Linked DNA regions of Homo sapiens. The protein of the gene in region 1 purifies or fractionates together with the protein of each later gene. This does not show direct contact. Each region holds a gene or a part of one and is shown on either strand. Other genes may lie near its edges. The genes, in order: MCEMP1 and JOSD2.

Region 1 (7,410 bases):
GGTGATAGAGCGAGACCCTGTCTCAAAAAAACAAAAACAAACAACAACAACAACAAATCAAGTGCATGCATGAGCGGTGGACATAGTACCTTAGGGTCATGTACACTCATGGATACATGCTCAATGGCATAGATACACTCACGGGCACAATTACACACGTGGGTACACGCTTAGGGCTTGTATATATCCGTGGTCCCAGGTACACTCAGGGAGATGTTGTATGCTCAGGGGCACCCACTCTGGGACACAGGGAAGACACAGGGAATGAGTTACTCATTCACAGATGCACAGGTACTCACGCAGGGCACTCAGTCTCGCCCACCCTGGTGCCCCGGGGTCATTGTCACGTGCAGACTCTCCCTCTCCCCAGGTCCCAAAACCCCTCCCCTTGCCCCAGTAACAGGTCCCATAGCGACGCTGTTTTCCCTTGACTTTATTTATCTTCATAAGTCACAAAATGTGAGTGCAGAGATAAATGTCTGTGTGCATGTGCCCTGAGCACACAGGGTGGCATAACTCGGCACACTCATAATGACACAGCCGTTCACCCAGCCACAGATAGTGACAGGGCACACATGGCGACACCCACATGTACGGAGATAAATCTCCCCCACCATGACATGGGTAGACAGAAAACACGCCGCAGTATACTCTAGTATGTTTACACAAACAGGGAGACAGGCCCGTGCAATGCATGTCACCAACACCCACACTCAGAGTGACATCTGCTGGAGGTGCTCAGACACAGCCACCCACCGTGACATGCCGAGACTCACATATGTCACATGACACAGGCATGCATGCCACATTCACTGTGACTCTCAGTCCTATTCATTCATCACCTTTCTGGGAGATACACTGAAATGTCCACCCTTTGCAAAATGCACACACACGCGCACGCACACACGCACATACACGAACACACGCGCACACACGCACACACACGCACGCAGGTGTACACACACACGAGCAACTCCGAGACACTCATTCACCATGACTCGAGGTTTTTCTATACGTGGGACGAGGGGCAGGTTCACACTAGGCTGGGGGGGGGGGGTCATTTCCCGTCTTCGTTGGCAGGTGCAGCCCCATCTTCCAAGTTGTGGCTTTGGCTGCCACAATGTCCTCTCATTTATTGAGGTGAGGACTCTGGGGATGGGGAGAGACCCACAGTGAGGCAGATCCCGCCCCTGGGAGAGGAGCTGGGGCTAAATCTGAAGCCCCACCCACCCTCCTCCACCTCCTGTCGGGGCGCCAACTTACGTGGCATTTTCTGCAGCACCTCCAAGATTTTCTGTACCTTTGTGTCAATGTTTTTTATGCCTAGGGGGCGGGGAGGGTTGGGTGGGAACAGATAAGTCAAGCTGCGGTGGAGCCTCAAACAAAGCCCCCACCTTCCTTGGAAGCACCCCCCCTGCCCCACACCCACCCTGGGGTACAGCAGAGCCCATGGATTTGGGGTTCCCAGGAGCCTTTCAATACCCACAGAGCAACCCAGATGGTAACACCCATCGCCCCTCCACAACTTGAGCTTTGGGAGGGTAGGACCCCGGCTTTCTCCTCCCCTGAATCCCCTGCCCCCAGCTCAGCTCCGGGCATTGGTGACAAATAACCCCCATAGAAGGCGAGACTACACAGGCACCTGCTAATGTCGTCTCTAATCTATCAATCTTGCTCCTGACCATGGTGATGCTCTGCTGAACGGAATCCCAGCCTCTCTTCTGTCTCTCTTCGCATGCTTGTACGGAGTTTGAGACTGAGGGCATGAAACAGGGGTGTCTGTGCATCCATCCCTCTCCAGACCCCCACCATGACCCCACGGGTCTCCCTCAGACCCTCCGCTCACCATTCCAAAGCTCCCTTTTAAAGCCCAGCAGCTCCTTGGACATCTCAGCATCTGTTCAGGAGGGGCAGGAAAATCCTTGAAGCACCCAGGGAGAGAGAGAGAGAAGGACAAGGGAGAAAGTCTAGGCCCCCCAGCACCCTCCTCCCAAGAAGTACTCACTCTTCACCATGATGAAGGCTGACAGGATGATGCAGAGGACAAAGGCCAGGGCCAGGAGGATGTACAGGCTCAGGATGGCTCTGTACAACCAGCAGGGGACCTGGGTGGAGTCTGAGGGCGGCCTGCACTGGGCTGGGACTGGAGCAAAGAGGCAGCAAAGTGACCTTGAGGGGCCAGCACCACCACTCAAACCATCCTCACTGTCTCTAACACCATGGACACCTCGCTCCTCTCAAAACCATCAGCAGCTGTGGTCATGCAGCTTGTCATCATCGTCAACAACACTGCCACCACCAGCCACCCTCAGCGATCTAACACCGTCACCATCACAGACCCCCTCTCCAGCATTCCCCAACATTGTCATCATCAACAGACCTCATTAGCACGTCAACAGCTGTCACCTCTTCCTTCCCCATCGCTTCCTCCCTTCCACGCAGCCCCGGGGGCCCTGCAGTTGCCCGCCCACCTGCCCCTTCCCAAGGTGATGGGATGTGAGCAGGTGGGTGTCTGCTCACCTTGGCTCGTGGGTCGTGAATGACCACCCTTTGCATGGTCCTGATTTTTGAAGGCCAAGGTGATATTCTCATAGTCTGGGTCATGGGCACCTGGGAGGGGTTGGAGATCTGCTCAGAGCTCTGTGGTGTGGAGAGTGGATCCGGGATCTTGTTTTACCCAACCCTTTGCACTCAATAAATTGTAGGGGGTGAAAGATAAGGAGTGAGAAGCTAAAATCTGCTTTTTGGTTAAGTGGAGCGGGTGTGTGAGAGTTTGAGTGATCACACCACACACACATCCACACACACATCCACACATCTTGGAGGGGAAGGAGCCCCCGGCCCCCACCTTTGACCCCTTACCTCTCCCATCTGAACTCTCCTTCTTTTTTTATTTTTATTTTTTACAGACAGAGTCTCCCTATGTTGCCCAGGCCAGTCTCCACCTCCAGGGCTCACGCAATCCTCCCGCCTCAGCCTCCCAAAGTGCTAGGATTACAGACATGAGCAAAAGCCCCCGGCCCCCCAATCTCTCCTTCTTAACCCCTCCCTTCCACCTCGAGTTCCCTAACCTTGATTCTTGGCTGAGACCCCCTGTTTCTTGTCCCTGAAGGCTGGTGCTTGCATCTTGACTTCCTGGTGCTTGTAGATTTCCTCCACTTCCATGGTCCCCAGCCCGCAAATTTGTCCATACACGTCCCCGCCCACCGGAAGGTGTGGGCAGATGAGGAAATCTGGAGGTGGGGGGAAGAAAGAGGGGGAGCAGCCTCCTCTTTTCAGGGATCCACGACTCTCGCACCCTGGGGCACCCTCATTCCTGCCCCGATCAAGAGGCTCTTGGGAGCCAAGAGGTCTCAGGAAGGACCAAGAAGAAAAACCTCTAGACCGGGAGATGGAATTCGACACTCGGAAATGTTACAGGAAGCTGTGGTCTCTGTGTGTGTCTGTGTCTACCTGGATGGACCTCACCCTCCTACCTCCTCTCCATTTCAAAAGAGAAGCTGTGACACCTCAGTGTCCCAACTTTTCGCGTAAGAGCAACCAGGCTTGGAGACAGGACCCCTGGGTCCCCCCACACCTTCCTCCCTCCAGCCTCAGCTCCACCCCTCAGCTCCACCCCCAAGAAGTTCTTCTACTTCTACAAGTCCCCGTGGAGGAAAAGCACAGATGTGAGGCAACGGGAACTAACCACTGGAACGCCACACCCACATCTGGGACTGAGGACAGACCCACATCCTTCCCTCCCTCCCCAAATCCCCTGCTTTTATACAACCCTGGAGGAGGCTGGGTGCGGTGGCTCACGCCTGTAATCCCAGCACTCTGGGAGGCTGAGGTGGGTGGATCATCTGAGGTCAGGAGTTTGAAACCAGCCTGGCTAACATGGTGAAACCCCGTCTCTACTAAAAATACAAAAATTAGCTGGGCGTGGTGGCGAGCGCCTGTAATCCTAGCTACTCAGGAGGCTGAGGCAGGAGAATCGCTTAAACCTGGGAGGCGGAGGCTGCAGTGAGCGGAGATCACACCATTGCACTCCAGAATGGGTGACAAGAGGGAAACTCTGTCTCAAAAAAGAACCCTGGAGGAACAGTTTCCTCTGCACCTGGAAACTCCAGGTTTCTCATTCTCATCCATCCATCTGCTTATCTACCCAGATACTCTCTCTCACACATGTACACACACAGGTCTGCACACGGACACACATCACAAACTCATTTGCATACTATTTGCATTGTGACACTCAGAAAAATAGACACAAGCATGCGTTCACATGCCCGCACTCTGTCTAGAAGGTGTCTTAGTTCACTTTGTGTTTATCTGATCTTGAAAACTGGGGTTACAAAAGGCACAAAGTAGCTGGGTATGGTGGCTCGCTCTGTAGTCCCAGCTACCCAGGAGGCTGAGGTAGGAGGATCATTTGAGGCCAGGAGTTTGAGACCAGCGTGAGCAACATAGCAAGACCCTGTCTCTTTAAATGTTTTTTAATAATTTTTTTTTGAGACAGGGTTTCACTCTGTTGCCCAGGCCGGGGTGCAGCAGCGTGATCATGGCTCACTGCAGCTTTGACCTCCCTGGCTCAAGTAATCCTTCGTCCTCGGCTTCCCGAGTAGCTGAAATTACAGGTGGGCACGACTTCACCTGGCTAATTTTTCTCCTTTTTTGAGATGGAGTTTTGTGCTTGTCACCCAGGCTGGAGTGCAATGACGCTATCTCAGCTCACTGCAACCTCCGCATCCCAGGTTCAAGTCATTCTCCTGCCTCAGCCTCCCAAGTAGCTGGGATTACAGGCATGCACCACCACCCCCGGCTAATTTTGTATTTTTAGTAGAGACGGGGTTTCCCCATGTTGGTCAGGCTGGTCTCGAACTCCTGACTTCACGTGATCTACCCGCCTTGGCCTCCCAAAGTGCTGGGATTACAAGCATCAGCCACCGTGGCCCAGTCTAATTTTTCTTATTTTTTGTAGAGATGAGGGTCTCAATATGCCGTCCAGGCTGGTCTTGATCTCCTGGGTTCAACTGATCCTCCAGCCTTGGTCTCCCAAAGTGCTGGGATTACAGGCATACATTTTTATTTTTATTTTTTTCTGGCCAGGTGTGGTGGCTCACGCCTGTAATCACAGCACTTTGGGAGTCTGAGGCGGGCGGATCACCTGAGGTCAGGAGTTAGAGACACCAGCCTGACCAATATGATAAAACCCTGTCTCTACTAAAAATGCAAAAATTAACTGGGCGTGGTGGCAGGCGCCTGTAATCTCAGCCACTCGGGAGGCTGAGACAGGAGAATCACTTGAACCCGGGAGGTGGAGGTTGCAGTGAGCCGAGATCGCGCCATTGCACTCCAGCCTGGGCAACAAGAGCAAAACTCCGTCAAAAAAAAAAAAAAAAAAAGAAAAAAGAAGAAAGAAGAAAGAAGGAAGGAAGGAAGAAGAAAAGAAGAAAAAACAAGTATAAGACTGTCTTATGTGCAGAAAGTGATGATGTTTTGGTTAAAAATATGTGGTTAAATTTCAGACAACTTGAATGTTGAGAAATGAGCGTCGAGATCTGGTGAGGATAAAGTTCTGTTTCCTAAAATATTGCCAAATCCTGTGTCTCCAAGAAAGATCAATTTGATAATGACTTCATGCCAGCTGCTCCATTTGGTCTTAGAAAGAAGTCAGTTACTGAGCTATAGGACCGCCTTCTAATGGAGCAGACGGACCAATTGGATGTGGGCTCTGCCTTGATGGACAGGCACAGGGGGTGGAGCCACAGCGTTGCACATTTCCCGGGCTTGGGTGGGGCTGAGACGCGGCTCCAGGCTCTGGACTTCCTTTGAGAAAAAGGTCACGCTAAACCAGAGGCCCACAAGCAATCATGTCATGTGGGAAACATCTGCAAAGCTGCCTGACCAGCACCCGTCCCTTTCATAGGGTAACATTCTCAATTTTCTTTTAAGAAAGAAAATGTGTGCTAGATCCAGCAAACCATAAGCTAGGGATTGGTTTACAGTGGACAAATGATCCAGACCCAGCCAACCAGAGTCTAAGATTGGGCAGAGAGGCGGGCATTTGAGCAAGATCCAGCCAATGAAACGCTGGTCTGGGATTTTTATTGGTTTAACCACGGGGGAAAAAGCATTCTCTTTTTTTTCCAGCCCTCACTAGGGCTGCCACAATGGGAGGATGTAATGGGAGCTGTGACAGGGAAGAATTTACTTGAGAGCAAAGGCAGTGCTGAGAAAATCAGACCCGAGAGGAAGTCTGGGTCCTGGAGACATCATTTGAGACCCTGGTTCCAAGCCATACCTGAACCTGTTGTTCTAACCCTGGGCTTGTCAGTTACACAAACAAGAAACTTCCTTTTAGTTTTGCCCAAGCTAGTTTGAAGTGGGGTCTGTTGTACTTGCAAGCAGAAGAATCTTGCCTTGGCTGGTCTCTGTGGCCCACGCCTGTAATCCCAGCACTTTGGAAGGCCGAGGCAGGTGAATCACTTAAGGTCAGGAATTTGAGACCAGCCTGGCCAAAATGGCGAAATCCCCGTGTCTACTAAAAATACAAAAATTAGCCAGGAGTGGTGGTGGGCGCCTGCAATCCCAACTACTCAGGAGGCTGAAGCAGGAGAATCACTTGAACCTGGAGGTGGAGGTTGCAGTGAGCTGAGATCGTGCCACTGCACTCCAGCCTGGACAACAGAGTGAGACTCCATCTCAAAAAGGAAGAAGAAGAAGGAGGAGGAGGAGAAGGATGAGGAGGAGGAAGGAGGGAGGGAGGAGGGAGGAGGGAGGAGGATATCTTGCCTACCACAGGGGATCTAGGCATTAGCTATTGAGGAAATTGAGGCTCTAATAGGGGGTTTGCCTGTCCACATCACCTGGGCAGATATGACCTCCAAGTCTGCACTCTGGGGCAGGAGAATGTCTATGTTGGAATTGAGGAACCTGAAGAGAGCCCTCTTAGGTTTCAGATACAGGACTATTGGATGGGGGTGGAGACAAATAGTTCTGGGGACAATGGAGCATCCCCGCCCCCAACACACACACACAGCAGTAAGGGGCAGGGACACACACAAGGCACTAGACTCACCCTCTCTGGCCCTGGCCATGCTTCTAACTCAGTGGTCCTGCCCTACCCCCATGACCACTGTGGAGTCAGGAGAGAGGGTCTGGGAAGGGAATCCCTGGGCTGGAGTCTGGGTGGGGTCCCTGGCACCAGAAGTGGTTGTAATCTCTGCTCATGGCCACCAGCATCAGACAGGGGGCTGGGACCATCACAGGGGGTGGGTGGCAGTGGGAGGAGAGTCCAAAACATCCTGCAAACCAGAACCTCACTCTATCATCTGTTGTCCAGGTGTGACATTTGAGTCTGGGATCCCTTTCAAGACTAGGTGCTAGGAATTCTGAAGTCTGTGGTGGGAAATCAGGGACTGGATG
Region 2 (8,123 bases), about 43 Mb from region 1:
TCCCCAATGCCTTGGACAAAGTCCCTGTCCCTCCGCCAGTCCCTTCCTCTGTCCTTCAAGGCCCACCTCAGATGTCACGTCCTCTGAGAGGAGCCTCCTGACCTCCAGGCTGGATCGGGGCCCTGTCTGGGCTCCCCCAGTGAACTGAGCCACCTCAACGATGACAGCTGCCCGCATCACCCTGATTTAACACTGCTTGCTTCTCCCACGGGGTTGCCCTCACCCCTCCCCTGCTCACAGCCCACTCTGCTGCCTCATTTCCCCCAGGACAGAGTCCCACAAGGCCCTGCGTGGTCTGGCTCTGGTGGCCTCACCTCAGAGCCTCAGCACCCTCCTTCCTGGTCCCCTGTCCCCAGCCACATCCCCGGTGCCCACCGCCTCCCGCCCCACCCCCGCCAACCTTTCCTCCAGCTCTTCCCCTGCCTAGGAAGGCTCTTCCGCCTGTCACCACTTGTCTCTGGGCCCTGCCTCTGAACAGCTGCACCTCTGTTCCCTATCTGGACCCTGGGCAGGCAGGACATGGGAGGAAAACGCTCGTGTGTGTGTGTGTGTGTGTGTGTGTGTGTGTGTGTGTGTGTTTCCCTCACCACCCTTAGGCTGGCACTTGTGTCTGAGTCATCTCAGGGTCTCCAGCATGGCTTTTGTATGAAAGAGCTGATGGGTCCTTGTTGCGAATGATAGAGGAGATGACTAAATACCATAATAATCAGTCTGAGGGGCTGGGACTCTTAAGATGTCCGAGAGCCGGAGGAGGCTTGGAGCAAGAGGCAGGGGAGGCAGGGCCATCTCCAGGTGTAGAAAGACTCTCTAGGATCAAGTGGGGACTGAAGGCAGGGACAGACTGGAGGCCATGGGCAGGCTGGGCAGGAGAGGGTCAGGCCTGAGCTGGGGCCAGGGACATGGGGACAGAGAGGAGGGAGTGAGAGATGGTAAAGGAGTGATTTTTTTTTTTTTTTTTTTTGAGACAGTCTTGCTCTGTTGCCCGGCTCACTGAAACCTCTGTCTCCCAGCTTCAAGCAATTCTCCCACCTTAGCCTCCAGAGTAGCTGGGACTACAGACATGTGCCACCACGCCCAGCTAATTTTATTTTTTATTTATTTTTATTTTTTAGTAGAGACGGGGTTTCGCCCTGTTGGCCAGGCTGGTCTGGAATTCCTGACCTCAAGTGATCCACCCGCCTCAGCCTCCCAAAGTGTTGGGATTACAGGTGTGAGCCACTGCGCCCGGCCAAAGAGTGATGTTGGACATTGTGAATAGTGAAGAGGAACATTCCATGCTGGCAGAGAAGGAAGCCATGCCGGGCAGAAAGAAGTACCTGGAAGCCCAGAGGCCGCACAGAAGGGCTCACGGGAGTGGAGAGTCTGGTTTGAGGGGGGCCGTGAGGGCTGAAGATGCGGAGGCAGGCTCGGCCTCCGCTATGAGGAGGGCCCTGAGTAGGGCGGGGGCGTGTTTAGGATGGACTGGAGAGCTGTGACAGGGCCCAGATAAGAGATGCCTGAAGCTGGGTGAGCCTGTAATCCCAGCTACTGGGGAGGCTGAGGTGGGAGGATCACTTAAGCTCAGGAGTTCAAGACCAGCCAGACCTTGTCTCTAAAGAAAGAACCACTGGGCCGGGTGCAGTGGCTCACGCCTGTAATCCTAGCACTTTGGGAGGCCGAGGCGGGTGGATCACGAGGTCAGGAGATTGAGACCATCCCGGCTAACATGGTGAAACCCCGTCTCTACTAAAAATACAAAAAATTAGCCGGGCGTGGTGGCGGGTGCCTGTAGTCCCAGCTACTCGGGAGGCTGAGGCAGGAGAATGGCATGAACCCGGGAGGCCGAGCTCGCAGTGAGCGAGATCGCGCAACTGCACTCCAGCCTGGGCAACAGAGTGAGACTCAGTCTCAAAAAAAAAAAAAAAAGAAAGAACCACTGGATTGAGGTCTGGCTGGGGCTGAGGCCACAGGGACAGACAGGCACAGGAGGCAACATCTCCCCAGAGTCCCAGCGTCTAGCTTAGGCAAGTGAGCGCGGAGCAGAAGAAAGCCCCCAAGGCTCAGCGCCTGCCTGGCGGCGAGACCCAGGTGGGTCACTCCGCCAGAGCTCTGCTGCTCCAGGGGCTGGGGTGGGTGACGGTCACCTCTTGCAGATCTCATCGGCAGCCTCCTGGCTAAAGAGCTGCTGCTGCAGAACGTTGTTGAGGGCGTGGACAGCACACAGCTCCAGGCGCTGCCGTTCGTGGTACACGGTGGGTGGGCTCGGCTGTGCTCCCGGGGCCTGGGACATGCCGTCCTCGGCTCCTGCTGGGGGTTGGGAGGGGGAGAAGGTCCTCAGGGGCCCGGGATCTAGAGGTCCAGCCTCCCAGCAGGCCTTTGGGGCATCGCCATTGATTGAGCTGGGACTCGGAGCAGCCCAGGAAGACACTGGGCCCCTGACCCCGCTCCCTGGCAGTCTCCTGGCAGCACACGTCCCTCCATCCCTTATTCCTATTCCTACGAAAAACGCTGTCTCTTCTGCTCCCCTAGCAACAGAAAACCACCCTCACCAGGTCTCTAAGTAAAAGGGTCCCTATCATGGTCACCTAGCAACAGAGGAACCTGCCTCCCCGTCCCTAGGTAACCAGGGCGCTCTGTGGTTACCTAGCAACAAAGCCCCCTCCCCACCGCACTAGGTAACAAAGTCTGTCCTCCGAGCACCTAGCAATAGAGAATCCTCCTCCCCTGTCTCTAGGTGATAGGGTCCCCTCTGGTCTCCTAGCAACAGAAGACTCCCCTTCCCCGGTCATGTAGCAGCGAGGCTCTCTGCTCTTGTCACCTGGCAACGGGGCCCCCTCCCCAGTCACTAAGCAACAGGAGTTCCTCTTCCTATCACCCAGCAACCAGGCCCCCTCCCCGGACACCAAGGAATGGAGCCCTTCGCCGACCCGCACCCCAGCCACGGCGCTCGCCCTTTGCCTGGCAACGCCCCTCACCCCGCCTGCCTCTCCGCTCCACCGAGCCAGGGGTTTCCGCATCCCCTTCCTGGGCGGCGGCTCTGGGCTCCGAGTGCGGGGCGGGCAACACCGCGCTGACTGGGCAGGCGGGACGGACTACAGCTCCCGGTGATCCCCGCGCGCCGGACTACGACTCCCGTGGGGCCCCGCGGGACTCCTGCTCCACACGGAACGCCCGGGCCGCGTGGCCCTGAAGTCGGCCGTCGGGCCTAGGAAATGCCGCACTACAACTTCCGTCGGGCTCCGCGGCAGGTCCCGGAAGTGCGCCTCAGAGGCCCTTCTTTCGCATACGGCCGCGCCCACTACTGCTCAGAGATTCTAGGAAACTTAGTAGGTAGGCTCTCGCGATAGCTTCCTGGCGCCGCGCTCTCATGGGTGCTCGCCCCCGGCGATGGCGTCATGCGCGGTGCGCAGACGCAGCGTGACGTCACACAAGGGAAAGGGATCAGAGACGCCAGGCGGTGCGGGGGGAGGCAGCGGTGATCTTTACTGAGTCAGAAGGGAGACCCTGGGGAAGTGGGGCAGGGCAGGGGTGGGATGGTGGTGGTGAGAGGCCAGGCAGATGATCTTGTCTCGGGAGGGAGGAGGCTTCTCAGCAGAGATGGATCCCCGGCCTGGAGGGGAGCTGGCAGCAGGCTGCGGGGAGAGGGGAATGAGCGAATGAGACAGAGGAGAGATGAGGAGACAGACGCCTGGGGGAGGCAGTGGTGGGAGGAGGGGACAGGGCAGGGGGGCGGTGGAGGAAGACCCGGAGAGAGCGGGACAGAGCCCTGGGGGTGGACAGAGACAGAGAGAGTCTCGATCAGAGGCGGGCACAAATGGAGACATCTACAGTGCCAGGATTCAAAGTCATGGAGAGAGGTTAAGGAAATAAAGGTCAGAAAGAAAGAAAGGTCAACAAATACAGAACCAGAACTGCAGAACTAGTGAGAGCCCGGGACCCCCAAGCTCTGCAGAACACAGGAGCCCAGGGCCGGGGGAGAGGGGCCTGGCCGCACCCAGGAGGCTCTGCCAGAAGGCCGTGACGGTGGCGGAGCCGGTGACCGCGCCTGGCTCGGCAGGGTTCTCTCTGCGGGTGTGCACAGCAAAGCTTCGGCCCGTGGGGCCCCGGGGTCCGCTCAGCTCTACATCCACCACGTGCATGTCCGTGAGGCTGGGACAAGAGGGGCAGTCAGTCTGGAGAGCCTGGACTCAGCCCAACACCCTGCTTAGCTCTGCTCACCTGGTATCAGCCACGAGCACCCCAATCACCCCATCGAAGCCCAGGCTGGGGGCAGCCAGGGCAGCCGCCGCCATGGTGTTGGAATTTCGCGGGGCAAAGGGGCAGAGCCCACGGACAGGGCCTTCGTAGAGCACAGTGCAAGGCCCAGGGCTGTGGGCTGCAGCCAGGGGTCCCTCAAGCCGGAAGCCATCGGGGTGTGTGGCCATGGTGACACGAAGGCTCTGGAAGCAAGAGCCCGGGTTAGGGGGAGTGGGGTCTTTGCAGGCCTCCCCTGGTTCCTGGGGAGCCCAGCAGGCCTCACCCGGAGGCCCCCAGCTGCATCCAATCTCCTGATGTCCTCAGCGCCCCACAGGGCCCCTCGGGCCACAAACACGGCGTGGTCCCAGTGCTGTGAGGCCTCCAAGAGCTGCCGCTCTGTGGTCTGGTCACTTAGAGCTGAGGGGGACCCCACCTGGGGTGGATGAAGGAGGGGAGGGTTGAGGTCAGGGAAGGATATCCACTTCAGGGTGGGGTGAGACCAAGACAGAAGGGGCAGGGCTCTGCGTAAATGGTTGGGGTGGGGCTTACCAGGAGATTGGCATGGCGCAGGATTTGTGCCCCAGATTCATGGATTATTTTGGGATGGGCCACTTCCACAACCAGATCAGGGCGCCTGGGAGAGGGGAAAGAGGGCGGAGGGTCTTGGAGAGGTATTAGGCCTCTTCTCCCCAAGGTTCCCTCCGAGTCTACTGAGGGCTGCCCTTCTTCTCCCTGACCTGGGAGGCGAAATGAGATGAATGGGTTCGTCCTGTTTCACATTTGCTTGAACCAAGGCCCAGAGAGGGTCAGGGAACCCCTGAGATCACACAGTGGCTAAGAGAGCCAGGACAGGAGCTTCAGGGAGCTCCACTCTCCCATGGCAAGGTCACTGACCTTTCCCCAAGGGCAGCAAGGTTCTGGAGCTGCAGGGAAGGGGGCACGCTCCCTGCCATTCGTCCTGGGTCACGATTCCAGACAAAAACAAGTTCTAGGCCAAGTTCTGGTCCCTGAGCCAAGAGGCGGGAGACGAGGGACTGTCCTGGGGAGAGGGAAAGGAGAGGGCTAGAGATCCAGAGAGAGGGGGACAGAGACCCAGAGAGAGAGGAGGTGGGGACAGAGACCCAGAGAGAGAGGAGGTGGGGACAGACTCAGATTGCGGGGTAGGGAGACAGAGATGGGGGCAGGGCAGAGACACAGTGGGGTGGACAGAGGCCCAGAGAGAAGGGAGACAGAGACGGAGAGGACAGAGACCTGGGGTGGGGGTGCAGTGGGCAGACCCAGAGACACAGCCAGGGGCAGATAGAGAGAGAAAAAAGTGTTTGTGGAGGGCAGAGAGTCTTGGGAGCTTTAGGAAGGGGTTTGGGGAAGGAGGCCAAGGATGGTCAGGGACTCACCGAGGCGGCCATAGCCCACCACGCCCACCCTCCACGGGCCCCTGTCGGCCATGGCCCTGAGTGCGGTGTCTGGGGCCTGGCTCCCTGGGCTGCTCGCTGCCCGCTGCACAAGGCCTGGGCAGCCGCTGCTCTTTGGACATCTGACCCTTGAGCCTCTGGGCTCAGTCTTCCCCCTTCCCCGCAGGCCCAGCGTGGGGGCGTGGGCCTGCGGGAGTGGAGGCGGGAGAACCCTTCCCTGTGCTCTGTCCACTTTCCCGGGTCCAGCACAGTGAGCATGGTGACCGGGGGTTCTGGGAACCCTGCGTGCCCCCCTTTCCCCTGCAGCACACCCTCTTTCTCCCTGCTGATGTGGAAAGTTTCCTCTGCAGTCCCCTGCCCCCTCTCTGGCCGGCCAGGTTGTCATGGAAACTGCATCTTGCTTTGGGTTGGGAGAAGAGATGGTGACAGGGACTCTGGGCTCTGTCTGTCCCCTCGTGCTCACCTCTCCTCCTTGTCCTCAGGCGGCTAAGGTCTGAGGGAGGCTTCAGCCTGGCCGTGGCCCTAGCCCTCCCAGAGGCAGCGGGAGCCCTGGTTGTGGCTTCTCCTCAATGTGCCCTTGCCTCAGCGGGTCCAACCTCCCTAGCCCCGCTGCGCAGCACGGGTCCCCTTCCCACAGCCTCCGCCCCTGTCCACAGCCTCCCTCCGCTCTGATCATCCTTCAGTTCACCTTGACTTGCTACCTTTCACTCTGTCCCCCATCGTGCCACCAGCTGCCTCCAGTGTGACGTTCTCGCTCCCACGTCCGTCCCTCCCGTTCCCCAGCTCGCGTCAGCCCAGGAGAAGCCTTCGAGGCCTGGAGAGGCCAAGTGCCCCCAACATGAGCCCCAGCCTCTGTGCCTTGAGGGTGCCTGGCATCGGAAATGGCGCAGGCTGCGGCAGCGCAGGCTCCCTGCCCCCAGCCACCACCTGGTACCCGCTGCAGTGTTTCCATGGCAACCAGGATTGGCGCTGGAAGGAGGCTGGAGAGAAAGAGAGCGTGAACGGGAGCATGGGGTGGGGGGGGCGGGCACTGGGTGGCGAGAGCCCCAAGTTGACGGGAGGAGAGAGGAGACAGACGCGGGCAGACAGAGAGGGGCCAAGACCCCGACGTGGCACCCAAAGGCTGCCGCTGCTGATAAGGGAGGAATTGGCTTCCAGAGCCAGGAGCCCCCGGTGTGGGAGAGATGAGATGCCTGGGTGTAGACAGAGCCAGGAAGGGGGCAGGGGCCAGGCACCTCACGGAAGTGGGGGGCCTCCCGCCATCTCTACCTTCTGACTCCTGCTGGGGCCTGAGTGTCCCCATAGTGCCCATAGCTGCCGTGTACGGGGTACAGCCTGGGCCACTACGAGGGGAGAAGGGGGCTGGGCGCAGGCCTGTGTGTCCTCAGGGCTGTGTCCCCGAAGCCACCTCAGCGTGGGAAAGCACTGGAAGGCCCTGCATGGCTCCGTCCCTCCCTCTGCCTCCCCCAGCAGCGTGAGATGGCAGCCCTGGCCAGCCCCAGCCCTCCAGGGCCTGCAACTCGGGCACCTTGACCCCCCAAGAGACATCACCACCCCCTCCCCCAACCCACCCAACAGCTGCCCACTGTGCCAGCAACCCCCCAGCCAGGCCCGCTCAGGGTTTGCTCCCTGCCCTCCCAGGGCTCTGCTCCTGCCCTTCTGAGTGGCACTGTGGTGCCCCTGCCGCCCCAGGCCCACCCGATCCGGCCCTCCAGCCTCCCACTGAACCGGCCAGAAATACAGCTGCTGTGCCCCAGAGGCCGCAGGCCCAGCCTCCCGCTTGGCCTCCCTCCCCTTCGGCACCCCGTCCTCTGGAGCAGCCTTGAGGGGGTCTGCAGTGGAGAGACACACTCTGGATTGGGCCCTGTTGTGGGTTGAATTGTCACCCAGAAAGGGAAGCGCAGAAGTCCTGACCTCCAGGGCCTCAGAATGGGACCTTATTTGGGAATTGGGTTTTTGCCAAGGATGGAGCTGAGGTTATACTGGAGGTGGAGGCTCCTGGTCCAGTCTGACCTCTGTCCTTGTAAGAGGGGAGGTTAGGCAGGCTGCAGTGGCCCACACCTATAGTCCCGACACTTTGGGAGGCTGAGGCAGGTGGATCACTTGAGGTCAGAAGTTCGAGACCAGCCTGGCCAACATGGTGAAACCCCGTCTCTACTAAAAATACAAAAATTAGCTGGGTGTGGTGGTAGTCGCGTGTAATCCTAGCTACTCAGGGGGCTGAGGGAGGAGATTCGCTTGAACCTGGGAGGCAGAGGCTTCAGTGAGCTGAAATTGTGCCACTGCACTCCAGCCTGGACAACAGAGCAAGACTCTGTCTCAAAAACAAAGAAACAAACAAAGAAAACGGTCAGGCGCGGTGGCTCATGCCTGTAATCCGAGCACTTTGAGAGGCTGAGGTGAGTGGATCACCTGAGGTTAGGAGTTCGAAACCAGCCTGGCCAATGTGGTGAAACCCCATCTCTACTAAAAATACAAAAATTAGCCAGGCCTGGT

Evidence for each region.
Region 2: the proteins of MCEMP1 (region 1) and JOSD2 purify together in Homo sapiens (affinity purification with mass spectrometry; 3 studies listed by BioGRID and IntAct, with this or other methods). This does not show direct contact.

What each region holds. Positions count from the first base shown.
Region 1 is NC_000019.10:7,672,837-7,680,246, reverse strand, and holds MCEMP1 (mast cell-expressed membrane protein 1), read right to left. Parts: upstream 3,158-7,410; 5' UTR 3,127-3,157; coding exon 3,072-3,126; intron 2,611-3,071; coding exon 2,521-2,610; intron 2,144-2,520; coding exon 2,006-2,143; intron 1,898-2,005; coding exon 1,847-1,897; intron 1,757-1,846; coding exon 1,643-1,756; intron 1,324-1,642; coding exon 1,264-1,323; intron 1,150-1,263; coding exon 1,133-1,149; 3' UTR 418-1,132; downstream 1-417.
Region 2 is NC_000019.10:50,508,163-50,516,285, forward strand, and holds the start of JOSD2 (josephin-2), read right to left. Parts: upstream 3,030-8,123; 5' UTR 2,955-3,029; exon of another isoform or gene 2,913-2,954; intron 2,287-2,912; 5' UTR 2,270-2,286; coding exon 2,124-2,269; intron 1-2,123. Other genes in the region: ASPDH (aspartate dehydrogenase domain-containing protein), read right to left, coding at 3,568-3,611, 3,974-4,128, 4,198-4,418, 4,499-4,648, 4,765-4,849, 6,329-6,939. UniProt on the Homo sapiens protein: Cleaves 'Lys-63'-linked poly-ubiquitin chains, and with lesser efficiency 'Lys-48'-linked poly-ubiquitin chains (in vitro). May act as a deubiquitinating enzyme.